Regions from separate parts of the Homo sapiens genome. Here region 2 is linked to region 1. The links come from fine-mapping of genetic effects on gene expression. A gene starts in region 1. The other region holds a variant in brackets. All regions are shown on one strand. Distances are from middle to middle.

Evidence for each region.
Region 2: its variant is fine-mapped to the expression of TBC1D25 in minor salivary gland (GTEx, PIP 0.93).

What each region holds. Positions count from the first base shown.
Region 1 is chrX:48,532,140-48,547,021 of GRCh38, reverse strand. TBC1D25 (TBC1 domain family member 25) reads right to left here and starts at 7,308. Exons shown (of 6, transcript NM_002536.4): 1 at 7,102-7,308; 2 at 5,580-5,689; 3 at 1,999-2,153. The coding sequence starts at 7,224. RefSeq lists enhancers at 6,653-7,153, 7,154-7,654 and a silencer at 7,148-7,367.
Region 2 is chrX:48,477,883-48,492,764 of GRCh38, reverse strand. It overlaps FTSJ1 (FtsJ RNA 2'-O-methyltransferase 1), which reads right to left. Exons shown (of 13, transcript NM_012280.4): 2 at 14,597-14,804; 3 at 14,247-14,316; 4 at 14,058-14,148; 5 at 13,649-13,727; 6 at 11,562-11,614; 7 at 11,423-11,476; 8 at 11,237-11,339; 9 at 11,050-11,133; 10 at 10,259-10,362; 11 at 9,971-10,168; 12 at 9,738-9,779; 13 at 6,415-7,029. The coding sequence starts at 14,717. The coding sequence ends at 9,747. Among named protein-coding and RNA genes, the nearest start is that of FTSJ1, 9.1 kb to the right of the region's middle. RefSeq lists a silencer at 3,444-3,677. The variant C/T (reference allele first, on the strand shown) is at 11,866.

The DNA.
Region 1 (14,882 bases):
TATATGTTATTATGACATCAATAAAGTGCTCGACTCATCCCAAATGGGCACATGAGTTTCCTGAGGCTGGGAACCACATCTTCCACTCCACAACTATTTAAAACAATTTTGAACCTACAATAAAGTTAAAAGAATACACTGAACACCCATACATACTTCATCTAGATCCTCTATTAACATTTTTTTGGGCCACATTTGCTTTATCTCACTCTCTCTGTATATAAACACATTATTTTTGCCAACTTATTTGCAGACATCATGACATTTTACCCCTTCATACTTAACTGTGTCTTTCCCAAGAACAAGGATATTTTCCTTCAATAGATATGATACCACTACCACACTGCTATGGTTTGAATGTGTCCTTCCAAATTCATGTGTTGCAATTTAATTACCAATGTGATCATATTAAGAGGTGGGGGCCTTTAAGAGGTGATTAAGTCCTGAGGGTAGAGCTCTCACAGATGGGATTAGGGCTCTTTTTTTATTTTTTATTTTATTTATTTTTTGAGATGGAGTCTTGCTCTGTTGCCCAGGCTGGAGTGCAGTGGTGCGATCTTGGCTCACTGCAAGCTCCGCCTCCCGGGTTCATGCCATTCTCCTGCCTCAGCCTCCCGAGTAGCTGGGACTACAGGCACCCGCCACCACGCCCGGCTATTTTTTTGTATTTTTAGTAAAGACAGGGTTTCACCGTGTTAGCCAGGGTGGTCTCGATCTCCTGACCTTGTGATCTGCCCGCCTCGGCCTCCTAAACTGCTGGGATTACAGGCGTGAGCCACCGTGCTCAGCCTCTTTTTTTTTTTTTTTTTGAGATGAAGTCTCGCTCTGTCACCCAGGCTGGAGTGCAGTGGCAAGATCTTGGCTCACTGCAACCTCTGCTTTTCGGGTTCAAGCGATTCTCATGCCTCAGCCTCCCGAGTAGCTGGGATTATAGGCATGTGCCACTACACCCGGCTAATTTTTGTATTTTTTTTAGTAGAGACAGGGTTTCACCATGTTGGCCAGGATGGTCTCGAACTCCTGACTTCAGGTGATCCGCCTGCCTCAGCCTCCCAAAGTGCTGGGACTACAGGCATGAGCCACCGTGCCCAGCGGATTTGGGCTCTTATAAAGAGGTTGAGGGTGTGGGTTCACTCTCTTCTGCTCTTCTGTCATGTGAGGATGCAGCAAGAAAGCCCTCACTAGACACACAACCTGCCAGCACCTTGATCTTGGACTTCCCAGTCTCCAAAACTGTGAGAAATAAATTTCTCTTCTTTACAAATTCCTCAGTCTGTGGTATTCTGTTATAGTAGCACAAAACGACTAAGACACACACCCAGGAAATTTAATACTGATACAATTATCTAATGTATGGTCTGTAATCAAATTTTGAGACCACGTCCTAATTTATCTGTGTGCTCGCAGGGACCAGAATAGGCAAGAGTGGAAGAACAAAGATGAGAAGAGAAAAAGTGGCTGAGAGGTCAAGGGAACAAATGAATGAGTGAGCAAGAATACAAACAAATGAATATGGGTGCAGAATGACTGAATGAATAAACACAACTAGCATTATTATAATACGCATTGTTATATTTAGGTATTATAACTGAAATACATAATGCTAAAGCTATACCGTTATACTATATTATAAATCTGCATTATATCTAATTATTACATACATTACTCGGTTATATGTTATAATAGTATAATACAATATAATTATCATTATTAGAGATAACACTTTCTGAGCCTTCATTATGCAGTCATGCACTGTTCCAGGCATTTTATATGAATTTCCCCTCACAATGGTTCTAAGATACAAGGCCTCACAATGGTTCTAAGATACAATTATCTCTTTACAAGTGAAGAAATTGTGGCCTAGTGGCTGAGCCAGGATCTATAGCTAGGATACCTTGCTACCCATCCCACCATGAGGGAGTGTACTGTGAGGGGTAGCATCACCCTATGGGGTAAAGGGGTTCCAGAGCAGTGCTCCTGGGGGCACTGAGTACTCACTGTCCTCCGAGGGCCGAATATCTACACGCAATTGCAGGTAAGGTTTGGAGGCAGTGGCAAAGGCTGTGCTGAGGTCCCAGTCAGATAGAAGTGAGAGGTAAACTTCCTGTCCTAGCCGGTCCCGGCCCAGGTAGCTGATGCCAAAGTTCTTCTTCCTGGACAGGGGATACGAGGGAGCTCTCAGGGCCCCTGGTGCCCTGGAGGCCTCAGGGACAGTTTCCAAAACAAGGAGGGTAATATAGAAGGCGTTGAAAACAACTTCCTACTATGTGCAAGGTACTGTGCCAAGGATTATGGGCAGCCTGAGATCAGGTCATTTATACCCACTTTGTTACACAAACACATACAAGCAGGTACACACCTGCTTGTATCTGGAGGTCACATTGGAAACTGGTAAAATGTTGGCCGGGTGCAGTGGCTCACGCCTATAATCTCCGCACTTTGGGAGGCCGAGGTGGGTGGATCACCTGAGGTCAGGAGTTTGAGACTAGCCTGGTCAACATGGTGAAACCCCTTCTGTACTAAAAATACAAAAAAAATTAGCTGGGTGTGGTGGCAGGTGCCTGTAATCCCAGCTACTCAGGAGGCTGAGGCAGGAGAATCGCTTGAACCTGGGAGGTGGAGGTTGCAGTGAGCCAAGATTGTGGCATTGCACTCCAACCTGGGTGACAGAGCAAGACTCCATCTCAAAAAAAAAAAAAAAAGTTGGTCCCCTCTGGGGTAGATGTGGGACAGAAGTGGGAAGAAAGCAGCCTTCTTACTACATAAAAAAAAAGCAATCTGTGTTTGTTATTTTTCACAACAAAAATGTTTATGTAAGAAAGTCTAATAACAACTAAGAATTTTTCAGCTATACTTGTGCAACTATGTAAAGAAGTTTGTTGCGTGATGCTCATCATAACCATGGAAACATCCTAAATACCCAACAATTGTGTACTGTTTGAATTTCTTACCATGTGTATGTATTCCTCCAAAATCACAACAAAATGACTATCACATCTGCCCCCAAGAGACACCACTTTTCAGCTATCAGATTGGCAAATTTTGCAGTTTTACAGTAACCAATGTTTGCGAGGGTGTGAGGGAAACAGGCATTTATGTGCTGCTGATGAGATCATAAATTCGTTTTTTTTTTTTTTTGAGACGGAGTCTCACTCTGTCGCCCAGTCTGGAGTGCAATGGTGCGATCTCGGCTCGCTGCAAGCTCCGCCTCCCGGGCCCATGCCATTCTCCTGCCTCAGCCTCCCAAGTAGCTGGGACTACAGGCGCCCACCACCACGCCTGGAGAATTTTTTGTATTTTTAGTAGAGACGGAGTTTCACCGTGTTAGCCAGGATGGTCTTGATCTCCTGACCTCGTGATCCACCTGCCTCAGCCTCCCAAAGTGCTGGGATTACAGGCATGAGCCACAGCGCCCGGCTGAGATCATAAATTGATAAAACCTGTCTGGAGAGCATTTTGGAAACACCCATTAATAGTTCAAAAAGCAGGCCAGGTGCGGTGGCTCATGCCTGTAATCCCAGCACTTTGGGAGGCTGAGGCGGGTGGATCACGAGGTCAGGAGATCGAGACGATCCTGGCCAACACGGTGAAACCCCATCTCTACTAAAAATACAAAAATTAGCCGGGCATGGTGGCGCACGCCTGTAGTACCAGCTACTCAGGAGGCCGAGGCAGGAGAATTGCTTGAACTCAGGAGGTGGAGGTTGCAATGAGACGAGATCACACCACTGCACTCCAGCCTGGACGACAGAATGAGACTGTCTCAAAAAAAAAATTTTTTTTAAAGCAAATACCCTTTTACCTGGCAATACCACTGCTAGGAATTTATCCTATGACTAGATGTTTCCAAATACAGTAGTCCCTCTTTATCTACAGGGGATACATTCCAAGACCCCCCCGAGTGGATGCCTGAAACTGCAGATAGTACCAAGCCCTATATATACTATGTTTTTTTTCATATACATACATACCTATGATAAGGTTTAATTGATAAATTAGGCACAGTAAGAGATTAACAATAATAGAACAATTATGACAATACAGATGCTTCTTGACTTATGACAGGGTTATGTACCAATAAACTCATCGTAAGTTGGAAATACTGTAAGTTGACAATGCATTTGGCTGGGCGCAGTGGCTCACCTGTAATCCCAGCACTTTGAGAGGCTGAGGCGGGCGGATTGCTTGAGCTCAGGAGTTTGAGACTGCCCTGGGCAACATGGCGAAACCCTGTCTCTACTAAAGATACAAAAAATTGGCCGGGTGCGGAGGCTCACGTGCCTGTAATCCTAACACTTTGGGAGGCCGAGGTGGGCGGATCACTTGAGATCAGGAGTTTGAGACCAGCCTGACCAACCTCATGAAAATTAGCTGAGTGTGGTGGTGCACACCTGTAATCCCAGCTACTCTGGAGGCTGAGGCATGAGAATCACTTGAACCCGGGAGGCAAAGGCTGCAATGAGCCAACATCGGACCACTGCACTCCAACCTAAGTGACAGAGTGAGACTCTGTCTCCAAAAAAAAAAAAAAGAGAAGATCAAAAAACTATCTGGGACTGGGTGCGGGGGCTTACACCTGTAATCCTAGCACTTTGGGAGGCCGAGGTGGACAGGTAACTTGAGGTCAGGTGTTCGAGACTAGCCTGACCAACATGGTGAAACCTTGTCTCTAATAAAAATACAAAAATTAGCAGGCGTGGTGGTGCGTGCCTGTAATCCCAGCTACTTGGGAGGCTGAGGCAGGAGAATCACTTGAACCCGGGAAGCGGAGGTTGCAGTGAGCTGAGACTGCGCCACTGCACTGCAGCCCGGGGGACAAGAGCAAAACTCCGTCTCAAAAAAAAAAAAAAAAAAAATTATCCGGGCATAGTGGTGCATGCCTGTAGTCCCAGCTACTTGGGAGGCTGTGACAGGAGAATCACTTGAACCTGGGAGATGTCACTGCACTGCAGCCTGGGTGACAGTTAGACTCCATCTCAAAAAAAAAAAAAAAAAGAAATAAAAAGGAAAATGCATTTAACACATTTATCCTACCAAACATCACAGGTTAGCCTAGCCTACCTTAAACGTGCTCAGAACGCTCACATTAGCCTACAGTTGGGAAAATCATCTAACACAGAGTCTGTTTTACAACAGTGTTGAATATTTCATGTAATTTATTGAACACTGTACTGAAAGTGAAAAGCAGAATCGCTGGGCACTTGCAGTACAGTTTCTACCAAATGCGTATCGCTTTTGCACCATTGTAAAGTTGAAAAATCCTAAGTCCAGTTATTGTAAGTTGGGGACTGTCTGTAAACTGTAATAAAAGTAATATGAATGTGGTCTCTCTCTCTCTCTCAAAATATCTTATTGTATGTAATATTTGCAGACTGAGGTTGACCATGGGTAACTGAAACTGCAGAAAGCAAAACCACAGACAAAAGTAGACTACTGTGCTCCAAGACATGCATACGTGGCTGTTCACTGTGGGATTATTTGTAGTAGTAAAATAAACAAAAACCCTACCAAACAAAGGCCAGATAGCCACTGTAGAGGTCGGTGGCCCACTGGCCAGTCCCCAGCATCTTCCCACTCACCCACTCAAATCAAAGGCTCGGATGAGGATGTGCTGCAACACGTCGAGCGAGGTGATCTGGGGATCTACAGCAAAAGAGCGGAACTCTGGCGGCAAGAAGCTCTCACATTTCTGGGGAGAGAAGACATGGGGTAGGCCACCAGGGGCCCCATCACCATGCTGAAGAGTGAGGTGCAGAGTGGTAGAAGGCAAAGTCAGAGAGGTGCCAGGGGCCAGATCAAGGCAGGTGTTCTGGACCACAGGGTCCAGTGAGGAGGAGGCTACTGCAAGAGTTCAGGCCCCCAATCCTTCTTCTATATCCCTTCAACTATGGTTGCCAGAATCACCGTGTCCAGTCTGGCTCCTGTTAAATCAGTCCTCTATGGTGCTGTAACCAATCTAACACATCTACCTACAACACTCCCCTGCTTCAATCTCTTCAATGGCAACCCTAGAGTCCCAGCAAGCGGGCCTATGGGGCCCCAGCCAGCCTCTCACCAGGTTTTTTGAACTTTACACTCTAGTAGTACCAAACTGTTAGAAGTTACCTTGAAACCATCCTGACTCCAGGCCATTGATTGTGCTGATCCCCTGTCTGGAACATCCCTCCCACTTTCTTCACGTGGTTCACGCCCAGCTCAGGCATCATCTTTTTTCTGAATGTCAAACTTCTACCTTAGAGCTCTATTACACTGAAGTGATGTGTGGACCCTCTTATCACTGCCAGTGCCACTGGTTGGTCGGAGCCACCATCATTGTTTACTGGAACTATGGCAACAGCGTTCTTCCTCAGCATACACACCAAAGGCCCTTGGCGATCTGTCTCTGTCTTAGCGCTCTGATTCACCTCCTACCACTCTTCCCCTCATTCTCTCCACTCCAGCAATCAGGAACCTACGGGAACATGCCAGGCTCATTCCCATCCTCTAGTCTTTGCCCTTGCTATTCCTTCTGCCTAGAATACTCTTCCCTTCTAATATGCACATGGCTGACTCCTTTTATTCGGGTCTCTGCTCCTTCAATACCTCCTCTGGGGATTTCCCTGTACAACCTTGGCTAACGTGACTCCCTATTTCATAACCTTTTTCATTATTTTAGTGTCCGAAGCATCTCATTTCTTTAGTTGTCTCCACCCACGAGCCTGTCAGCTCATCAAAGTGGGAACTTGCACATAAGTGCACTCTCAACACATGGGTTGACTGACTCCAGAGCCAGCACCTTCTCATTCCTCAGAGCCCCACCCTCAACTACTGCGGCCCCTCCTCCAGCCCCATAGCCCCTCCCCTTTGTCTATAAGCTCCACCCATTCATCCCATAGACCCCCGCCTCGTCCCTCTATTTTCAGTCCCACGCCCCAAGGTACGTCGCTAACGCTCTCAGGCTCTCAGGCCCTCCCTACCCCTCGCCATCATCACTTGGCCCTCAAGCTTCGCCGCTCAGGTTATGTCCGAAATCTCAGGTCCCGCCCTCCATCCTATGACAGCCACCGCCTCCCCCTCCCCTGGGATGCCTCGGCGGCTGGGCCGACTCACCGCCAGCCTCACCTTGACTCGGACCCGCACCACCTCTCGCTCCTCCTCCTCAGCGGCCGCCGCCGCCTGAGCTCCCACACCGGGCGGGGGCGCTCCGGAGCCAGACAAGTCCGAGGCCCCGGAGGCTGTTGCCATCCCGCCGCCGCCCGTCTCAGGGTGACGGCTGACCGTTGCCCCCCACCCCGGCGCACACTCTACTGTACTGACGCCCGCCGCCCCACCTCGTGCCGGGGCGCAGGCGCAGAGGGCGCCGCGCGACCCTACCCCCCACCGTCCCTCCCACCTGGCCCTGCCTGGAGGTCGCCTCTGCGCCTGCGCCTAGAGTGCTGTTGCCAGGAGCCCCGCCCCCAAAAGTCGGGCATTTTGCTCTATTTCAGCTAGCGTGCAGACGCCTACTGAGGCCCCGCCTCCCCCAGCCCCGTGGTTTGGTTGTTTTGACAGCATACTTCCGGATTCACGGAGGTGTTAAACTGACGCCTCGTTCGCCAAGAGAAGGGGGCGGGGAAAGGAAGAGGCTGCGTGATGACGTCAGGCCCACACCCCGCCTCAAGTTGCCTCACGCCTCTGCTGGCAGATGATGTCATCTATTTCAAATACCAGTGGCCCTCGCTTCAAATGAATCCACTGAACAGAAAAAAATCCTTTTTTTTTTTATTTTTTTAGGCAGGGTCTCGCTCTGTCATCCAGGTTGGAGTGCAATGGCGCGATCACAGCTCACTGTAGCCTCAAAGTGAGCTATGATCAAGCGATCCTCCTGCCTCAGCCTCCCAAGAGCTGGGACTACAGGCGCGTGCTACCACGCCCAGCCAATTTTTGTATATCTTGTATAAACAGGGTTTAGCTGTGTTGCCCAGGCTAGTCTCGAACTCCTGACCTCAAGTGATCCACCCGTCTCGGCCTCTCAAAGTGTTGGGATTACAGGTGTGAGCCACAGCCCTCGGGTAAAGTGTTTTTAAAAATATACTCAGCAGGGTGCAGTGGCTCACGCCTTATAATCTCAGCACTTTGGGAGGCCGAGGCGGGCTGATCGCTTGAGCCCAGGAGTTCTAGACCAGCCTGGGCAACACAGCGAGACCCCGTCTCTAACAAAAAATTAAACAATTAGCTGGACGTGGTGGCGCACACCTGCAGTCCCAGCTACTCGGGAGGCTGAAGCGGCAGGATGGCTGAGCCCAGGAAGTCAAGGCTGCAGTGAGCGGTGATCACACCACTGCCCTAACCTGCACCACAGAGCAAGGCCCTGTTTCAAAAAAAATTAATAATTTATACCCTGACTTAGTAAGGTCAGATAAAACAGGAAAATGGTTTACACATTGTGAAAATTCATGGAGATTTTGTACACTGATGATTTTTGTACTTCCTGTATGAATGTTATACTTCATTAAATAATTTGCCCCCAAAAAACACTATTATGCTCTCTGGAGTTCTAGCTTTTTAGTTTGCCTTTGTCTGAAACTTGACGAGATCATACTTTCCCAAGTTTACACATCTAGGAGGCAAATTTCCAGGTAATTCAACTCCAGGAAGGACACTAATGCTTCTAATTGAAACCCAGGAAGAAGTTAACAATCAAGCCTTCAGAAGGCAGAAAGCGAGACAGACCCAGGGAGCTCAGCAGCATATCTCTAAAGCTCTGCCATTATTGAACCAGCTCAAAGGATCCCCGGTCTTTGTGTCCCTTTTCCAAGTTTCACATTCTCAGATCTTGGGGAATCACTGAATCACTGGAAAAGCCCTCTGTCCAGCTTGGTCTAGAGATTTCTTTGAAACCTGACTAAAATGTTGGTACTGACTGCCAGGGACCAGTTGAAAGAGAAGTGGCCAGGCTCAACTACGAACCAATCAATGGGGCCCAAATGATACCATCTATAAAAGATCAGCTTTTTGGGGTCCCAGAGCAGGGTGGATAATGGATCCGGAAGAGCAAATGGGGAATGCCCAGCAGAGCATGCAAAAGGCTCAGCAATGTGCTGAGCACATAGTTAGTGATCAAAACAATGAATGGAAGAAGCCAAGAATAAATGAAGAAAAATTTTAAAAAATAAACTGAGTCAGGCACAGTGGCTCACACTTGTAATCCCAGCACTTTGGGAGGCCGAAGTGGGAAGATCGCTTGAGCCGGGGAGTTTGAGACCAGCCTGGGCAACATAGGAAGACCCTGTCCCTACAAAATTAAAAAAAAAAAATTAGCTGGGTCTGATGGTGCGCACCTGTGCTCCTAGCTATTCGGGAGGCTGAGGTGGGAGGATTACTTGAGCCTGGGAGGTCCAGGCTGCAATGGAGTTGTGATCACGCCACTACACTCCAGCCTGGGTGACAGAGTGAGAACCTGATTAAAAAAAAAAAAAAGCCCACAAAACTTTGCTTTTGTCTTACCTAATCTTCATAACATGTTAAGGTTGGTCCTGTTCTTAAATGGTGTATGTCTACTAGATATTGGCTGAATTATTGAATATATCTTAGACTCTTCTGAGAAACTTTATATGTGGCAAAATGCAAAAAGGCAGTCTTCCCACTTAATTGCACAACATCCGTGCGGTTTGGACAAAATACAGGCTGCACTTACAAATGTTATTTCTGGCCGGGCACAGTGGCTCACGCCTGTAATCCCAGCACTTTAGGAGGCCGAGGCGGGCGGATTACGAGGTCAGGAGATGGAGACCATCCTGGCTAACACGGTGAAACCCCGTCTCTACCAAAAATACAAAATAATTAGCCAGGCGTGGTGGCGGGCGCCTGTAGTCCCAGCTACTCGGGAGGCTGAGGCAGGAGAATGGTGTGAACCTGGGAGGCGGAGCTTGCAGTGAGCCGCCACTGCACTCCAGCCTGCACTCCAACCTGGGCAACAGAGCGAGACTCCGTCTCAAAAAAAAAAAGTAAACAAAAAACAAAAACAAATGTTATTTCCAACAAAGGAGTCTTGTAAGATACTAGCACTCCAACTATTGTGTCCGTGTCATATGGACGCAACCCTCAAGGTTAACTTTTTAGGTAAGTCTGCAATTCTATTTTGGTGTCTTTTAAGACAACATGTTGCCTTGGTATTAACATTAAATAGATATCTCTATTTTTAGAAGGTATAAATAATGGGGATTTTCTCTGAAAGCCAGAAAAGGATTATTGGCATGTCTCTCTTGCCCCATGTGTTTAGAGTCAAAATCACTTATAGCACTGCTGGATTTTCTGATGGAAACAAGGAGTAAGAGCCTGCTTTTCATTTATCATAGGGTGGGATGTGCAAACCATTAGCCTGGAGTTTGGAATCGATCCTAAGGACACTGGGGCAAAGGTTTAGACAGGGGTATGATGTGGTCAGATGCCTCTGTCTTGGTCCTGGGGAGAGCTTTGGATGGAAAGATACTGGAAGCAAGGAGATCAAAAAGGAGGTCCTTGCCATAGTCCTGGGGAGAACTTTCTTTTTTGTTTATTCATTCTTCCATTCAACAAATATAAAGTATATGCTAGGCAGTCTACATAAATTAATTCTTATAATCTGCATAAAAACCCTATGAGGTAGTATCTTAGTCCATTTTTCTGTTGCTATAATCAAATACCCAAGACTGGGTAATTTATAAAGAAATTTGAGAGGCTGAGGTGGGAGGATTGCTTTGAGGCCAGTTCAAAACAGCCTCAGCAACATAGCAAGACCCTGTCTCTACAAAAAAATTTAAAAATTAGCTGAGCATGGCAGTATGCCTGTAGTACTAGCTACTTAGGAGGCTGAGGCAGGAGGATTGCTTATGCTCAGAAGTTTGAGGCTGCAGTGAGCTGTGATCATGCCACTACACTCTAGTCTGGGTGACAGAGTGAGACCCTGTCTCTAAAAACAACAACAACAACAACACCCCCCCCCCACCAAAAAAAAAAAAGAAAGAAAAGAAATTTATTTCTTACAGTTCTGGAGGCTGGGAAGTCCATGGTCAAGGAGTCACATCTGGTGAGGGCCTTCTGCTGGTGGGGCCTCTCTGTGGAGTGGCGAGGCAGAGCAGGGCATCACATGGTAAGGGTGCTGACCTTGCTAGCTCAGATCTGTTTCTCCTCTTAGAAAACCACTAATGCCCCACCCTTATGACCTCATCTAATCTAATCCTAATTACCGCTCAAGGTCCCATCTCTCAAATACCGTAGTCAGATTTCCCACCTCCTTAATTCTGTTAAAAAAGAGATTTAGTTTCAACATGAGTTTTGGAGGGGAGAAACATTCGAACCATAGCAGGTAGGTGTTATTACTCTAAGCATTCTACAGATTAGAGTACTGAAAGCCAGGGAGAAACAAGCTCAAGGTCAAAGGGGGTAGTGTCACAGAGAGTAGGCAGTGCAATGGATGGAACTTGGGGCTATGCCTGTTGTGTTTGAGGAAAAGCAAGGAAGTCAGCATGCCTTTAAGTAGAGTGAATGATAGGTGAGTGACAGCAGACGAGGTGAGAATAGAGTGAGATCATGCAGGGCTTTGACCTTAACAGTGAGGCATTTCTCCAAAGCTATATACTGTAGGCCTAAGCAGAGCCAGGATTTGAACTGAAGTCCACAGGTCACTTGATATTTCTTTTTTTGAGACGGAGTTTTGTTCTTGTTGCCCAGGCTTGAGTGCAATGGTGCAGTCTCAGCTCACTGCAACCTCTGCCTCCCGGGTTCAAGTGATTCTCCTGCCCCAGCCTCCCAAGTAGCTGGGATTACAGGTGCCTGGCACCACACCTGGCTAATTTTTTTGTATTTTTAGTGCAGAAGGGGTTTCACCATGTTGGCCAGGCTGGTCTTGAACTCCCAACCCTCAGGTGATCTGCCCGCCTCAGCCTCCCAAAGTGTTGGGATTACAGGAGTGAGCCACTGTGCCCGGCCTTACAGAGGTCACTTGAAGCCAGTCTACAGGTATCTGTGGTTTTATTATTTATTCTTTTCCATCTCTTCAAAACTTCTCAAGTACCCAGTTGTTTTATGATGGAGGGTCTATAAGGTAATGATAGACGGCAGGATGAGTGATGGGGGTCTGTAGAGTAAGTGAGGGGTGTCTGTTGGGTGAATAATAGCAGGTCTGTGGAGAGTGACGGAGGATCCCTGGGGTGGATGGGAGTCTGTGGGTACATGATAGGTGCACTATGAGGTAAGTCATGGGGGTCTGAGGGGTGAATGATGGCATCTGTGGGTGAGTGATGGGGTGTATATGGTGGATTGTGGAGGACCGTGAGTTGAGAGATGGGATGGTGGTGTGAGTGATAAGGGGTCTGTGGGATGAGAGATGGACTCTGTGGGTTGAGTGATGGCTTCTGCAAGGTGAGTTATGGGATGCTTATAGGGTTAGTAAAGGGGCATCTGTAGGATGAGTGGTGGGTCTGTGGTGTCAGTGATAGGGGTTGTTAGGGTGACTGATGAGGGGCTTCTGGGGTGAGTTATGGGATCTTCAGAGTGAAGATTTTGGGGGTGATAGGGGCCTGTGGGGGTGAGTGATGGGGTTGAGGTCTGTGTGGTGAGTTACGGGGTTTCTGTGGGGTCAATAATGGGCAATCTGTGAAACGAATGAATGTGTGTTGGTAGGGAGAGTGATGGGTATCTTAGGAGTTGATGGGGTATGTGGGAAGAGTGATGGGGGATCTGTGGGGTGGCTTATCAGAAGCCAAGAGGCTGAGTGATGGAATATATGTGGTAGGAGTGTTGGGGGCTCTGTGAGGTGAGAGCTGTGGCATCTGTGGGGTGAGTGATGGGGAGTGTCATGAACTGAATGATGTCCTCCTCCCCAAATTCATATGTTGAAGCCCTAATATCAGGGGAACCAGCCCCCAATATTTCAACATAATGTCACTATATCTGAAATAGAGCCTTTAAGGAGGTAATTAAGGTTAAATGAGATTATAAGGGTGGGGCCCTAATTCAGTAGAACTGGTATCCTTATAAGAAGAGGGACACTGGGCATGAGTGCACAGAGAAAGGGCCACGTGAGGACACAGCAAGAAGGTAGCCATCTGCAAGCCAAGGAGAGAAACCCCACCAGACACCAACCCTGATGGCACCTTGCACTTGGACTGTCCAACCTCCCGAAGTGTGAGAAACTGTTTGTTGTTTAAGCCACCTGGTCTGTGGCATTTTGTTACGGAAGCCAGAGCCGACTAACACAGGGGAGGATTAGGGTCTGTGGGGTTAGCGATGGGGCCTCTCTGGAAGGTATGATCAGGGGATAATAAACTGAGTAATAGGGATCTGTGGGGTAGTGACGGGGTCTGTAGGGTCATGAGGAGCCTGTGGAGTGAATGGGGTATTGAGTGGCGAGTGGCAGGATTCTGTGGGATTAATGATGGGGGCTGTGGGGCAAGTCTGTAGGGGGAGTGAAGGAGGACTTTGAGGAATGGGGGATCTGTAGATGGCTGATGAGGATCTATGGGGTGACGGGGGCATCTGTGGGGTGGGGGAATGACTGGGGGTCTGTAGGGGTGCTGATGTGCTAGCTCATAAGGTGAGAGGGCTTTGTGGTGTGAGAGATGGAGGGCCTGTGAGATGAGTGGGAGGCACCTGTGGGGTTAGTAATGGGGTGTCAATGGGATGAGTGATTAGAGCTCTGTAGAGTCAGTGATGAGTGAGTCTGTAGAGTGAGTGAAGTGATTAGGGGCCAATAAGCTGAATGATCCAGGGGTGGAGTCTGTTGGATGAGTAATGTGGCTCTGTGAGGTGAATGACGTGAATATGTAGGGTTCACGATAGGGCCTGTGGGGTGAGTGATGGGGGATCTTTAGGGTTTGTGATGGGAAGTCTATAGGGTGGGTGTTGGGGGGGTCCATGTGGCAGCAATGCAGGGGAATCTGTGGGCTGAGTAATCAGGGCATGTGATGGGGGTTTGTGGGGTGAATGATGGAAGATCTGTGAGGCTAAGTATTAGGGAGTGAGTGGGGTGAGCACAGAGCGGTATTACTGACTGAATGGTATCTCCCCAAAATTCATGCTGAAGCCCTAACCCCCAATACTTCAGAATGTGACTGTATTTGAAAATAGGGCCTTTCAAGAGGTGATTAAGTTAAAATGAAGTTGGTGAAGGCGGGTCCCAATCCACTCTGGCTGGTGTCCCTATAAGAAGAGATTAGGACACCGACATGCGCAGGCAGAGGGAAGACTGTGTGAGGACATGGCGAGAAGGTGACCATCTACAAGCCTCAGGGGACACTAAACTGGTTGACACCTTGAACTTGGATTTTCCGCCTCCAGAACTCTGAGGAAATAAATTTCTGTTGTTTAAGCCACCAGGTATGTGGCATTTTGTTATGGCAGTTTTAGAAAACTGACACAGATTTTGGTCCTGGGAAGTGGGGTGCTGCCATAATAAATACCTAAAACATGGAAGTAGCTTTGGAACTGGGTAATGGGTAGAGGCTGAAAGAGTTTTGAGGTGCATGTTAGAAAAAGCCTATGTTGCTGCTATGATCTTAATATTTGTGTCCCCCCAACCTCCAATTCCTATGTTGAAACCTAATCCCCAGTGTAATGATATTAGGAGGTGGGGCCTTTGGGAGGTGATTAGGTCATTCCCTTATAAGGGATGAAGGGACCGGAGTTCTACCCTCCCACCATATAAGGGTACAGAGGGAAGGAGCCATCTGTGAGGAAGCAGGCCCTCACTAGACACTGAATTTGCCAACACCTTGATTTTGGACTTCCCAGACCCCAGAACTGTGAGAAATAAATTTCAGTTGCCTATAAGCTACCCAGTTTATAGTATTTTGTCAGAGCAGTCCAAATGACTAAGACAATTATCTTGAAGGCTACTGGTAGAAATATGGATGTTGAAAGTGCTTCTGGTGAGGCCTCAGAAG
Region 2 (14,882 bases), 54 kb after region 1:
TGGTCTTCTACAAATGATAAAAGAGCTGGATGCAGCTTCCTGGCTGAGCAAACACTGTTTTCCCACTCCCAGACATTAGTCTTCTGAGTGTCCCTTGTCGTCTGTCCCCCTACCCCATCCCTGCAGTCCAACTCCTCTCCATTGCTGTGGGCCCTGTCACTGCCTCTTCCTACCCCTCCCCTCTAGGAAGCCTGCCCCGAGCCTCCAGGCCCAAGTGTTTTCTCCCTAACCCTAACCCTAAGCCTTGCTCCCAGGGACTTCCTGACCCTTCTGCTTCCTATCATGGTGACTCACAAGCATTGCTCATCTTCCCAGCCCTCCGGAGCCTGGCCACATTGTCTCTGGGGGCTGAAAGAAGGAAGCTCTAGCTTTCTCTCAGATAACAAGGTTTGAGACAAGTAAAATGGCCCCAAATTTCACTCCCTTAGCTCTGCTGAAACCTGGATTCATGGAGGTAGCGCATCCCTTGATTTTCTTTATGATCCCCAGCCAGGTGTAGGTAGAGGTAAATCTGCACACAGATCCCTCCATGGTGCTACATATGCATGCATGAATGCCATCTGTGGTCCCCCAAGGGTACACATACACAGACACCAAGATCCAAGGCCATTGGCACCGCTGAACACGTGAGCATACTCATGCATGGGTTCCTAGGGATACATGTACACACATGCCCAGACCCAGGTCCTTGGACACACTTGAAGCCATGCGCACACACATGCATGGACCTCCAGAGTTACACATGCACACATACACACATGCACATGCACACACACACGCGCACACACACACACACACACACACACACACGGGCACCCTGAGGTACCTGTACACAGACACCGAGGCCTGGGTCCATGGGCACACCTGATCACATCCACACACCCATGCACGTTCACACAGGTTATATGTTCACAAATACCCAGACTGAGGCCCACGGACAAATATGCACCTGCAGTACACACTCACACCTTTATGGGCATCCAGGGGGTATATGTACACAGACAGCCAGACCTGAGCCCATAGGCACACTTGCACTTTTGCACACACACATGCATGGTGCCCAGAGGTACATGTGTACAGACACCACAATCTAGGTTCCTGGGCACTTGTGCATCTGTGCACACACACACGTGGGAAATCCCTGCAGCCATGCATACAGCATGCCCACGTACATGTGCACAGACATCTACGCCCAGGCCCTTGTGTACCTGTTCACTCACACTTGCACGGGGCGGGGGGGGCGGTGCCCAGGGGTATACATGCATAGATACTAGACTTACCAGCTTGGGCCAATGTGCTCCCCTTCACTTACGCACTCACACACAGCCATGCATGTGCACGCTGGCATACACATGTATATACACAGACACAAACACTCAGGCTAGCACCCACGGACATAGGGCTTTGCACATAGAATCTCATATATAAGTACACCCTCACACATATGCACAGTTGCTTTTCACAAACACCCCTGTCAGGGAACAGGTCCCCATGTGCCTGCTACACCCTAGCATCTCCATGAGAATTCACACTTGAACTTCTGTTGCCCATATGCACTTATAACCATACCTGCATTCAAAACAGCAAAGCATGAATGCACACACATGTGCCATGTATGCATGCATGCACAAAAGGACTAATGTGCACACACATGGGCATAAGCACACCACGCACTCCTGCATAACTTCACACGTACTGGTACGCACACACCTATGTGCGGGCATGCATACCAATTATCCCGAGGCTCTTCTCCACCAACCCTGCATAACTGGTGATGGCTCCCAGCTCTGGCATCGGGCAGAACTTTCTTGTGAGGTACGGGCTGTGACTCATAATTCACTCCAGCTTTCCTCAGCTCCTGTGTCATCTAGAGAGACTCAGAACACTTGCCCCTTCCCTTGGGCTGCCACCAAGCCTGAGATGACACCACACCTATTCTCCCGAACCAAGGCATCGAGCAACCTGGCATGAACCAGGTGTGGGTGGAGTGTTAGAGGAAGCCTTGGGGCAGTTCTGAAAGCTCCCCAAGCAATTATTAGTCATTTTGTTATGTGGCAGAGGATATTCCATGGACACCGCCCCCAGAACCTGCAGGAGTGCCACGGATTTCATTCCAGGCTTGCCCTGGGCCCCTCCTGCTGCTCCAGAGCCCCCTTCAGCTAGACGAGGAGGATGTGCTGAATTTTCCTTCCTTCACTTGAGCACTGGCTCCCCTCATACCTGGCCAACACGAGTCTCTTGAAATCAGCCTTGAAACTGAGAGCCAATTAGCTGCTCAGACTGCCTTAACAAAATACCTCAGACTGGGTGGCTTAAACCACAGACGTTTATTTTCTCACAGTTCTGGAGGCTGGAAGTTCAAGATCAAGGTGCCGGTAGGGTTGGTTTCTGGTGAGGCTTCTCTTTCTGGCTCGTAGACAGCCACCTTCTTTCTCTGTCCTCATGTGGCTTTTCCTTTGTGCGCCCACAGGGAGAGAGGGAGGGAGCTCAGGCATCTCTTCCCTCTCTAATGAGGACACCGGTTCTATCAGATTAGGACCCTGCCCTTATGGCCTCATTTAATCTTAATTACCCCCATCTCCAAATACAGTCACATTGAGGATTAAAGCTTCAACAAAGGAATTTGCTGAATTCACAATTCAGTTCACAGCAGACAACAAAGGGAGCACTACCTTGAGCAGTTGAGGGAGGCCCCGGCTCCCTCCTTTTCCTCAGGTGCATTCCTGAGATGTGTTTGTGCAGGAAGGAGAGGGGTAAGGACAGGCATGAGCACAGCCTCTCTTGCAGAAATAGAAATCTTTATTGCTTGCAAAGTACTGCACTTTTTTTGTTTTGTTTTGTTTTTTGTTTTTTCTTCAAAACAGGGTCTTGCTCTGTTGTCCAGGCTGGAGGGCAGCAGCATGATCTCAGCTCACTGCCGCCTCAATCTCCCAGGCTAAAACGATCCTCCCACCTCAGCCTCCCAAAGTGCTGGGATTACAGGCATGAGCCACCATGCCTGGCCAGTACTGCACATTTTCCAAAAGTTATAACTTAAATGTAAAGAGTTATAATTTACATACGATAAAGTTCACCCTTTTGGCATACAGTTCTCTGAGTTTTGACAAACAATAACAGTTGAGTAGCCGCCACCACAGCAGCCAGAGGGATCCTGTTGCAACCCAAGTCAGCCCGGGGCCCTCCTCTGCTCGGAGCCCTGCCATGGCTCTCATCTCTCTCAGAGAAAAAGCCAAAGTCCTCTCCGTGGCCCACGAGGCCCTCCGGGCCCTCCTTGACCTCACCGCCCGCCACTGGCTCCTTGTTCACTCTGCTCCTGCCCCACTGGCCTGTTCTTCAAATGTGCCAGGCACCTCAGGGCCATTGCCTCAGGGCCCTTGCCTTTCTTTCTTTTTTTTGAGACAGAGTCTTGGCCTATCACCCAGGCTGGAGTGCAGTGGCACAACCTCAGCTCACTGCAACCTCCGCCTCCCAGGTTCAAGTGATTCTCCTGCCTCAGCCTCCCAAGTAGCTGGGATTACAGGTATGTGCCACCACGCCTGGCTAATTTTTGTATTTTTAGTAGAGACGGGGTTTCACCATGTTGCCCAGGCTGGTCTCAAACCCCTGACCTCAGGTGATCCACCCACCTTGGCCTCCCAAAGTGTTGGGATTACAGGTGTGAGCCACCACATCCGGCCCTTCGCCTTTCCCTGGATCACTCTTCCTCTAGATACACCCTCCCAGCTCACACTGACAGGGAAGAGTGCACTCCCAGGTTTACACTGACTGCTATAGGGACCTTCCCAGGGTCACACAGCCTGGGGTGTGGATCCTCTTGGAATCACACAGGTGAGGGTGTAGACACTCATGATGTTACTAGATTTTGGAGTAAGAAATCCTGAGGTCATGCTGATTGTGGTGTAGCCACTTCTGGGGTCACACAGAGTAGGGTGTGGCCACTGCTGAAGCATCACAGACCGGGATGTGTTCTCTTAGGGTCATACAGATTGGTGTGTGGGCAACACTGGAGTCACGCAGACTGGAGTGACTTGGATCACCGAGTTTGGGGTGTGGACACTTAGGGTCACACAGTCTGGAAAAAGGACATGGCTAAGGATACATAAACTGGGAAGTCAGCACCACTGTGGTCAAGTGACTGTGATGTGGACACTCCTGGATTCCCATAGGTTCGTCTGGGGACACTCCTGTGGTTACACGACTTGTGAAGTAGACTCTGCTGGGGTCACACAGACCCAGCTGTGGATATGCTTCGTCTGTGTGACTGGGGGGTGAATGTCCCCTGAGTGACAAAGATTGGCGAAGGGACACCCTTGGGCTCCCAAGACTTGGTGTAGATCCTTCTAGACTCCCACTGACTGGGGGGAGGGACACTCCTGGAGTCACACAGACTTTGTTGTGGACACTGTTGGTGTCATACCCACTGGAGTATAGACACCTCTCAGGACATGCAGATAGGTGTGGACACTCCTGTGGTCACACAATTTGGTGTGAACATTCCTCTGGTCACACTGACTGGGGAATTGACTCCTGTGTGTTTACAGACACTGGGGTGTGAAGACTCCTATGGTCACACAGACAGGGCTGTGCCCTCCCCTGGGTCACCCAGACTGGAATGTGGACCCACCAGTAGTCACTGGCACTGGAGTTTTACACTCCTGTGGTCACAATGACAGGGGAGTCGATAGTCTTCTGGTCGTACAGATGGGGGAGTGCACCTGCCTGAGGCCGTCAAGATGGGTATAGACACACTAATAGCCAGAGACTATGGGGTTTGGACAACACCAGGGTCACATATGCTGGGAACTGGACATTACTTGTGTCATAAAAACTTGGGTGGGGACACTCCTGAGGTGGCTGGACTGGGGCAAAACCACTCCCAGGACACCACAGACTGAGCTGTGGACTCCTCTGTGGTCACCGTTTGAGCTACACATTTATGGCACCACTAAGATGGCTATGGAAACTCCAAGCCATTGCCACTGCTGGACTCACAGAACCTGGCGTGAGGACACTCCTGAGGTCTCACAGGCTGTCGTGTGAACGCTGCTGAATTTGCACTGTAATGGGTGTGGCTACGCCTGTGGTCACACGGCCTTTTGTGTGGACACTTCCGCCATACATTCTTGGGCTGTGCATATTCACAGATTGGGGTGTGGGCATTCCTGTGGTCACACTGACTTCGGTGAGAAGACTCCTGGGTTAAGTCACCATGGTGTGGACACTCCTAGACTGACACAAACTGGGGTCTGGACATTCCTGGAGTCACACAGACTGGGGTGTGGTTATTTTCGTGGTCAGAGACCGGAGTGTAGACATGCCTATGAACACACGCTCCAGAATTTAAACACCATTTCTGACTGGAGATTGGACAATGGTTTTCCCAGACTTGAGTGTGCATACTCCTGGGGTCACACATGGTAACTGGGGTGAGTCACAGTCAGGTGTGGAAACAGCTGGGGTCGCAGACTGGTATGTGGATACTCCTGAGGTCACTGGACTGTGGCGTGGATAGTCCTTGGATCACAGAGTACGTGAATTTCTAAGGACACAGGATTAAGCTGTAGAAAACAGTTCTGTTCGTGTAGCTGGGGAGTTTCTGTCAGCTCCTGTTCATTAAGTTATAGAAATTTAGGACTGCAGTCCAGGTAGACTTTCTGACATTGCTTTTTTTTTTTGAGACAGAGTCTCACTCTGTCGTCCAGGCTGGAGTGCAGTGGCGCGACCTCGGCTCACTGTAACCTTCATCTCCCGGGTTCAGGTGATTCTCCTGCCTCAGTCTCCTGAGTAGCTGGGATTACAGGCATGTGCCACCGCACCCAGCTAATTTTTGTATTTTTGGTAGAGACGGGTTTCACTATGTTGGCCAGACTGGTCTCAAACTCCTGACCTCAAGTGATCCGCTTGCCTCAGCCTCCCAAAGTGCTGGGATTACAGGCGTGAGCCACCACGCCTGGCCCTGACGTTTCTTTAAGACAGGTTTTTAACCTAAAAAATTTGTTCTGAAGTCTGGGTGCGGTGGTTCACGCATGTAATCCCAGCACTTTGGGAGGCCGAGGTGGGTGGATCACCTGAGGTCAGGAGTTCGAGACCAGCCTGGACAAAATGGTGAAACCCCGTCTCTACTAAAAATACGAAAATTAGCCGGGTGTGGTGGCGGGTGCCTGTAATCCCAGTTACTCGGGAGGCTGAGGCAGGAGAATCGCTTGAACCCAGGAGGCAGAGGTTGCAGTGAGCCAAGATCACACCACTGCACTCCAGCCTGGGTGACAGAGCGAAATTCTGTCTCAAAATAAATAAATAAATTTGTTCTGCAGAACCCTTTGGCATCTGGTTAAATCTGTGAACCCCTTCACAGAATATTTTTAAAAGTATATACATACACATACACACACACACAATTACAATGGAAGCCAATTACATTGAATTACAATTATTACTATATATTAAATTGAAACAAAATTGAGATGCAGTAATATATGGGCTTTTTAATTAATACATCAACTTACAGGATCTGCTATCATTCCAAGAGGTGACAAATATGAACAATACTTCAAGATGCCCTTTTTATGTTACATTACAGTTGCTGTAACTGGTTTGTATTGGTGGGAAAATCCCAGGTACTGCTTTTACTACTGTGATTTGTTGCCAGCATTTATAACTTGGGAGTAAGGCTAAATTTCAGTTTCATTGCTGAAAATAAAGATGTAACATTTTCTTCCATCAAGTTCATGGTTACCCCTGGCTTCTATCCAGGTTAAGAATCCCTGCCTTTAGGGAAAATTCTGGACATAATCAGGACACTCCTGAAGAGGTTTAAAGAAGAGGTAAGACCTCACTCAAGAATTCCCACTGCAGTACAGACAGACTTTCATGGTTTCTTTCCTTGTTGTCTTCAGGGTTGTTGCAGATCCCTCCTCAGGGCTTGTTTGTCCAGGCCTCGTTGATGAGATGATATTTTGAAAACAAGTTCATCAACAAGTTCCGGTTTTCCTGACATTGAGCAGTTTCTGAGTTGTATCAGTTTGCCAGCTAACCAAAAGTCAAAGAAAGTTTTTTTGTTTTGTTTTGTTTTTTTAGAGACAGGGTCTTGCTCTGTCACCCAGGCTGGAGTGCAGTGGAGCTCCATCATAGCTCACGACAACCTTAACCTCCCAAGCTCAAGTGATCCTCCCACCTCAGCCTCCCAAGTAGCTGGGATTACAGGCAGGAATGTGCCACCACACCTAGCTAACTCTGCTGCTAACATTTTTGTGACATTTCCTCCTTTTATGGTGAACCATGACATATAGAAAATGCATAAAACCTATATATGTTCAGTTTAATGAATAACTACAAGGTGTTATTTGGTGTAATTGCAGGATGTTCACTGTCATTGTTGTACAGTTCTCCACGGTGAATGTACCACGATTTAATGGGCATATACTATAGATAGTGCTGCTAGCAACACTCTAGGACTCATTTCCTTTTTTTTGAGATGGAGTCTGACTCTGTCACCCAGGCTGGAGTGCAGTGGCACGATCTCAGCTCACTGCAACCTCCACCTCCCAGGTTCAAGTGATTCTCCTGCCTCAGCCTCCTGAGTAGCTGGGATTACAGGTGCCCGCCACCATGCCCGGTTAATTTTTGTATTTTTAGTAGAGATGGGGTTTTGCCATGTTGGTCAGGCTGGTCTTGAACTCCTGACCTCAGGTGATCCACCCACCTCGGCCTCCCAAAGTGCTGGGATTACAGGCGTTGAGCCACGGCACCCGGCCTCTAGGACTCATTTCTTAGGAGTGGAACTGGCACACATGCAGCTTTAGTAGGTAATGCCTAAGTTTCCACAGTGGCTGCACCATTTTACCTTCCCAGTAGCATGTACGAGGCTTTCAATTGCTGCATATCCTTTCAAATACTTAGTGTTGTTGATATTTTGAGTTTTCACTTGTATTTTCCTGATGAGCAGCTTTTCATGTGCTTACTGGCCACTCTCATGTTTTTCCTTATTGATTTACAGGACCCTTTAAATATTAAAAACTGTAAATCTCTTTCACACAATGATTTGCTGTTTCAATTTTTTCTTAAGGTGGCTTCTTGTGGCCAGGTGTGGTGGCTCAGGCCTGTAATCCCAGCACTTTGGGAGGCCTGAGGCAGGCAGATTTTGTGAGGTCAGGAGTTTGAGACCAGCCTGGCCAACATGGTGAAACCCCGTCTCTACTAAAAATACAAAAATTAGCCGGGTGAGGTGGGAGCACACGTCTGTAATCCCAGCTACTCAGGAGGCTGAGGCAGGAGAATCTCTTGAACCCGGGAGGCGGAGGTTGGAGTGAGCTGAGATAGTGCCACTGCACTCCACCCAGCCTGGGCGACAGAGCGAGACTCTGTTCTCAAAACAAAACAAAAAACAAAACAAAAAAGGCCAGGTGTGGTGGCTCACACCTGTAATCCCAACACTTTGGGAGGCCGAGGCAGGTGGATCACCTGAGGTCACGAGTTTGAGACCAGTCTGGTCAACATGGCAAAACCCCATCTCTACTAAAAATACAAAAATTAGCCATGCATAGTGGCGGGCACTGTAATCCCAGCTATTTGGGAGGCTGAGGCAGGAGAATCGCTTGAACTTGGTAGATGGAGGTTGCCGTGAGCTGAGATCATGCCACTGCACTCCAGCCTGGGTAACAGAGTAAGACTCTGTCTCAAGAAAAAAAAAAAGGTGGCTTTTTGTGATGGCTGACTTAGTCTGAATAACCTGCTATGCCATTGTCAGAAAGGGCCATCCTCTAACATCGTGGTTTTAGAACATTTGGCTATGGATAAACTTTCCTCCCATACCACGTGCAGTTCCACCTTTGGGACATGCCTATTTCCTTTACCCAGAATGCTCTTCCCTCAGATAAACACATGGCTTCCCTCCGGCAGTGCCTTCAGGTCTTTGCTCAAACATTACCTCTGAGGAATGTCTGAGGCCTTCTATGACAACCCTTTTAAAAAGTGCAAACTGGCTGGGCGCAGTGGCTCATGCCTGTAATCCTGGTACTTTGGGAGGCCGAGGATGGCAGATCGCTCGAGCCCAGTAGATCGAGACCAGCCTGGGCAACATGGCAAAACTCCATCTCCCCTAAAAATACAAAAATTTGCTAGGCATGGTGGTACATGCCTGTAGTCCCAGCTACTTGAGAGGCTGAGGTGGGAGGATTTTTTGAGCCCGGGAAATCACACCACTGAACTCCAGCCTGGGCGACAGAGTGAGACCTTGTCTCAAAACAAAAACACCAAAAGATGAAAACTGCCATGCCTAGAATTCCTGATTCTCTTCACCCTGCTTTACTTTTTTCTATTTTTTATATCCCATATTACTCTTATATATTATATATATTGCAAGATATGTAAATTGAGAAATGCAAGCTATATAGTATATATGTGTATGTAAACTCTTGCACTTACAGACTGTTTTGATTGTTGCCTCTTTTCCAAACTGGAAGTACTGTGAGAGCCAAGATATTTCTGTTTTGCTCCCTGCTCTATCTCCAAACCTAGAACAACACCTGACATACAGTATGTGCTCAATAAATGTTTACTGAATGCCTCAAATGTAAAATGCTTAAAGCAGTTCCTGGCATACAACAACAGATGTTTAGAAAAGGGTTTGTTGATTAAAATCTTATCAGTTGACATAAAAATTTCAAAGGTGAAATTTTACTGAGGTTTTTCATAAAGGTTGCCCTTACTCAAACTCTTAGATAACAAGGCAAACTTACCGTAATGGGTTAAGGTGAACAACTCATTTCATTGTCTTCCATCTACCCAAGAAAAAGAAAAGTGACTCACATATTTGGCGAAACTTTTCCATTCATTATGCTTGGCTTTACCAATTTTTTATAGCTATTGGGAGGCAGGAAAGGGAATTTTGGCCCCAGAAACCATGAGATTTGGGTCAGAAAAAGGCACACGGGGAAGGGGTCAAGGCAGGCTGAGAGTCACATTTCCAGACCTCAGGGGCCAGCAGGGTGTGGCACTGAGGGGCGGCCAGGGGCTGGGGAAACGTGTCCACTCTGCTGATGGGGCAGTCCTGGGGGCGGATCTCCTTGGCCAGCTGCCCCTTCCTCTTCAACGTGCAGGCCTCCTGGTATGGTGGCGAGATGGGGGGCTGTGTGGGTGGAGTGTACTTGTACTCTGAGCCGCCCTCTAGCTGCAGGGACAGAGGGGTAGGGAGATGGTGAGGACCTGGTAACCTAGGACAGCCTCCCTCCCACCCACCTACTGTTGGTTGGGCACTCACGTCCAGTGGGTAACTGCGGTCCGAATCATAGGAGCTCAGGTCCCCACAGGTCACAAAAGGCACAATGATGCGGGTGGGACCATCCAGCTGGTTGAAATCTGGGTCTTAGGAACAGGGGGAGACAACTGAGGACAAGGTCAGGATGCCTGGGGCCAGTCATGACACAGGCGGCGGTATGGCTGCCAAACCCTCCCCACATATCCACCAGCTACTCTCTTCCCACCCCACCAGAAATCCTTCATTTGGTTCAGATCACCTCCTCGGGGAGGCCCTCCATAATCACCCCTTCTAAAACATCGGTGCCCTGCTATTTTTCACTGCATTTATGTCCACCTGATATTGGATTATATGCTGCCTGGATGACGTCTCCCTCACTCAAATGTCATCCCAGGGGCAGGCTCTGTCTCTTCCTGCTAGAGGCTTAAGGGGCAAAAGTTTCACACCGAGGAGGTTTCCACCTGGGACATGACTGAGATCTTCCTAGGAGAGAATGTCCTTAGGCAGGTGGAGTCTCCACTGGGGCAGGGCTCAGGATCCTCCTGGGATGGAATTTTCACCAGGCCCAAGAGTTACCACTAGAGGACTGCCTGGGCTGAAGCTCCTCCCGGGACAAAATACCCATAAAGGGGTGGGATTTCCATCAGAGAATGGGGCTAAGGATCCCCTTGGGAAAAAAATTCCCATGAGGGGACAGAGCCTCCCCCAGGGGGTGAGACTGTGGGCCCTCATGGGACCTAGATTGCATAAGGTGTGGCAGAGTCCCCCAGGGTGGCCCATGCTCCAGCTCTCACCGTAAGAATGGTCCAGCAGGGGTTTGCTCAGGTCCGGGATGAAGCCCTCGGGAGGGTCATAGCCCTGACAGACAGCGAAGGCCTCTGCCAGGGGAAGGTGGAGTGAGGCATGACTGCCGCTTCCTCCTCGTGCAGTCGGCGTCCCAGAGATCCCCCTCTGCCTGCCTGGCCCCTCCACCCCACTGACCGATGCTAGAGTTCCGGCTGCTCCTGGGCTTGGCACACAGCACGCTGGAGAAGAAGACCTGCAGCTGGCTGTAGAGGAGCGTCACATCCCGGCCTCGGAATATCTGCAGGGTGAGAAGGCAAAGACAGCGGGTGAGGGTGGCCCTCAGCGACCTCCCTCTACTCCACCAAGTTCCTTGAGACTTACCTTGGCCACAAAGCAGCCCCCTGGCTTCAGGACATGTGTAGCAATGTTCAGAGCCTGTGGGCAGGACAGACGGCTGAGGCTGAGGTGGAGACAGCCAGGAGGGGGCCAAAGTGGGTCAGGGGTGGCCAGGGTTACTCACAGCTAGGAGGAGCTGGGCCTGCATATACTCATCAACATCATGGAGACCGGTTACTGTGGCAAGAGGAACAGCGTTAGGGGGGTCCCATCTGGCTCTGTGCATCTTCTTGTACCACACAGATCAGACACTAAATACATTTTCCAGGCTGTCTTACTGCTAAGGTTCCAGATGCAAATTACTGTCTGCCAACTGGATGCATATTCTGAGCTCCTAACCCTTAGGAACTCATTTCAATTCTAAAACAACCTCACACACAAGCATCATTATCATTTCCACCTCCAGCCCAGACTGTTCCTCTGAACTC[C/T]AGATTCACAAATCAGATTCTACATCTCCAATACATCCACAACCAAACTCCTGACCTACCTCCCCAAACCTGCTCCTCCCACCATCCTCCCCATCTCATCTGAGCTTTCTAATTGTTCAAATCCAAAACCTTAGTCACCTCTGATGCTCCCCCCGCATCCTCTCCTCACACCCACATCGAAGCCATTAACACATCTACTTTCAAAAGATCTGACTTGATCTTCTCCTCTCCACCACTGCCCTCACCCATTATCACTTGCCTGGACTACTCCACCCCGGAGCCCCTGCTTCTGCCCTTGGCCCTCACACAGCTCATAGTAGCCCAAGCCCAGCACAGTCCTCTTCTCCTCACAACCCTCTCATGGTTTTCTCCAAGCTCTCATCTCGGTGAAAATGCCAACAGCCTCACCATGGCCCACGAGGCCCTATAGGATCTGTCCCCTGTTACCTCTCTGATGTTACCTTTTACCACTCTCCCCCCCTCACTCTGTTCCAACCACAGTGATCTGCTTGTCATTACTCATACATAGCAAGCACCCTCCTGCCTCAGGACCTTTGCACGGGCTGCAATTTTTCCTGGATTGCTCTTCCTCCAGACATATCCATAGCTTACTCCCCCACCTCCTTTAGTCTCTGCTGTTAAGTCAGTGAGGCCTTCCCCATCCACTTGATTTAAAATTCCAACAGGTACTCCTGCTTTCCTCCTGCTCAATGATTTCCCTATGGTACCCATCCCCCACCCCACCTTTTTTTTTTGAGACGGAGTTTCGCTCTTGTTGCTCAGGCTGGAGTGCAATGGTGCGATCTCAGCTCACTGCAACCTCCGCCTCCCGGGTTCAAGCGATTCTTCTGTCTTAGCCTCCCAAGTAGCTGGGATTACAGGCACATGCCACCACACCTGGCTAATTTTTGTATTTTTAGTAGAGATGGGGTTTCATCATATTGGTCAGGCTGGTCTCGAACTCCTGACCTCAGGTGATCTGACCACCTCAGCCTCCCAAAGTGCTGGGATTACAGGCGTGAGCCACTGTGCCCGGCCTCCTCACCCCGTTTTTTTAGAGAGAGGGTCTCACTCTGTTGCCCAGGCTGGAGTGCAGTGGTGCGATCAAAGTGTACTGTAACCTCGACCTCTTGGGCTCAAGTGATCCTCCCACCTCAGCCTCCTGAGTAACTGGGACTATGGGCATGCATCACCATGCCAGCTAATATTTTAAGACAGGGTCTTGCTATGTTGCAAGGCTGGTCTCAAACTCCTGCCTCAAGTGTTCCTCTCACCTCATCCTCCCAAAGCACTGGGATTACAGGTGGAAGCCACCATGCCTGGCCCCATCCCCTTTTAATGGTACAGAGCTGAATCATTTATTTTCTTTCCCATTTGCTCCCACTAGAACATCAGCTCCATGAGGTTAAAGATTAATGGAATTTTATTCATGAATGTTTTCCCAACACAATAGGTGCTCAGTAAATGTGTGTTGAATGGCTGGCTGGCTGAAAATGAATGAACAGTGCAACGGAATTGGACAGTTGCAGAGAGATGAGAGCAGGGAAAGGTAGACAACAGACATGAAACTCAAAGGGTGGGGTGCAAGTGGGAGGAAGAGAGAGGCAGAGAGAGAACAGGCAGCAGAGGTAGGGAGAAGTTGCCAGATGTGGGAGAAAGCTGAGTGCGGAAGGGAGAGGCAGGGAGTAACTGAAGAGGTGAATAAGTCAACCAAGGTGGGAGATACAGAGAAGGACACACACAGGGGGCCCCGCCTGGCCTCCCACTTTCTGTTGCTATTTACCATCAGGAGCCCCGTCACACACCACTAGGTCCGCAGGGCAGCCCTTAAAGTGCTGGATGATCTCCTTGGCAGTGGACAGCTATGGAGAGAGGGAGGATGAGTGGCCCCACGGCCCTCCACTGCTGCCCTCAGATCCCGCCTGCCCATGGTCCTGGCCCACAGCCCCTGGGTCAGCCAAATTCCCAGGCTTTGCCTCTCTAAGACTGGGCTCCACCTCTGGGGACCCAGCATCATCATTTTCTGCTGTGTCTGTGCAATGATGACCTGCTGACTGTTTCTCCATGGTTACTCTCTCACTCTCTTTCTCTCTCTGTTTCTATCACCTCTCTGTTTCTCTTCCACTCTGCATAGACCCCAGGTAAGGGCCTTCACCCAGGATATACCCCAACACCCTCAGCCATGCTCTTACCTGGGTGATGTCCCCCTGGATCTGTACCACACCTGGTAGTGGAGCCATAGCCTGCAGGTCCACAGCCACCACGTGGCCGGACCCTTGGCCCCTGTGGACAACATGGCCCACATCAGCCTAGTTTCGCTCCCGGGCCCCTCCCACCCAGCCGGCCCTCCTGGGTCTCCCATCTGGGACCCCCACACTTACCCGATCTTCTGGCTCAGCACCTGGCTCCAGCTGCCTGGGGCTGCACACAGGTCAACTGCCCGTGTCACGCCTGGGCATACATAGTGAAAGCATCCTGATCAGCTGCACCCACTTCTCCAACCTGGAGACCCTTGCAAAATTCACCCCTCTCCCCTGGGGAGCACCCACATATCTCCATTGCCCAGGTGCCCAACTCCTCTCCGGTATTCTGCCTATCTTCCTGCCTGTCTCCCTGCCCCAGAGACCCTCTGAGTCAGCCCACCTACCACAGGGAGCTCTGCAGACCCAGCCTACTTGTTTACCTCCTGTGCCCACCTCACCGCCCAGTGACCTGCCCACCAGTCAGGGACCTTGGAAGAGTTGGAATTCCTTATCCAGTTGTAGCAGTTTGAAGGCGCTGCGAGCACGCCAGCCATTCTCCTTGGCCAGGCGGTAGTAGACATCCCGCTTGTCCTTTGACGTCCGTCCCATTTCACACACCAGTTGCTCAAGGACCTGCCGACAGTCCACTGATGCCGGCCAGTATCAGTAACCAGATGAATGGGCTACCACCTACCTCTGTAGGGCGGAGAGAACCACACAAACTAAACTGGGCTCATCTGACCCACATGACAGCTCACACAGAAGATGGGCTGA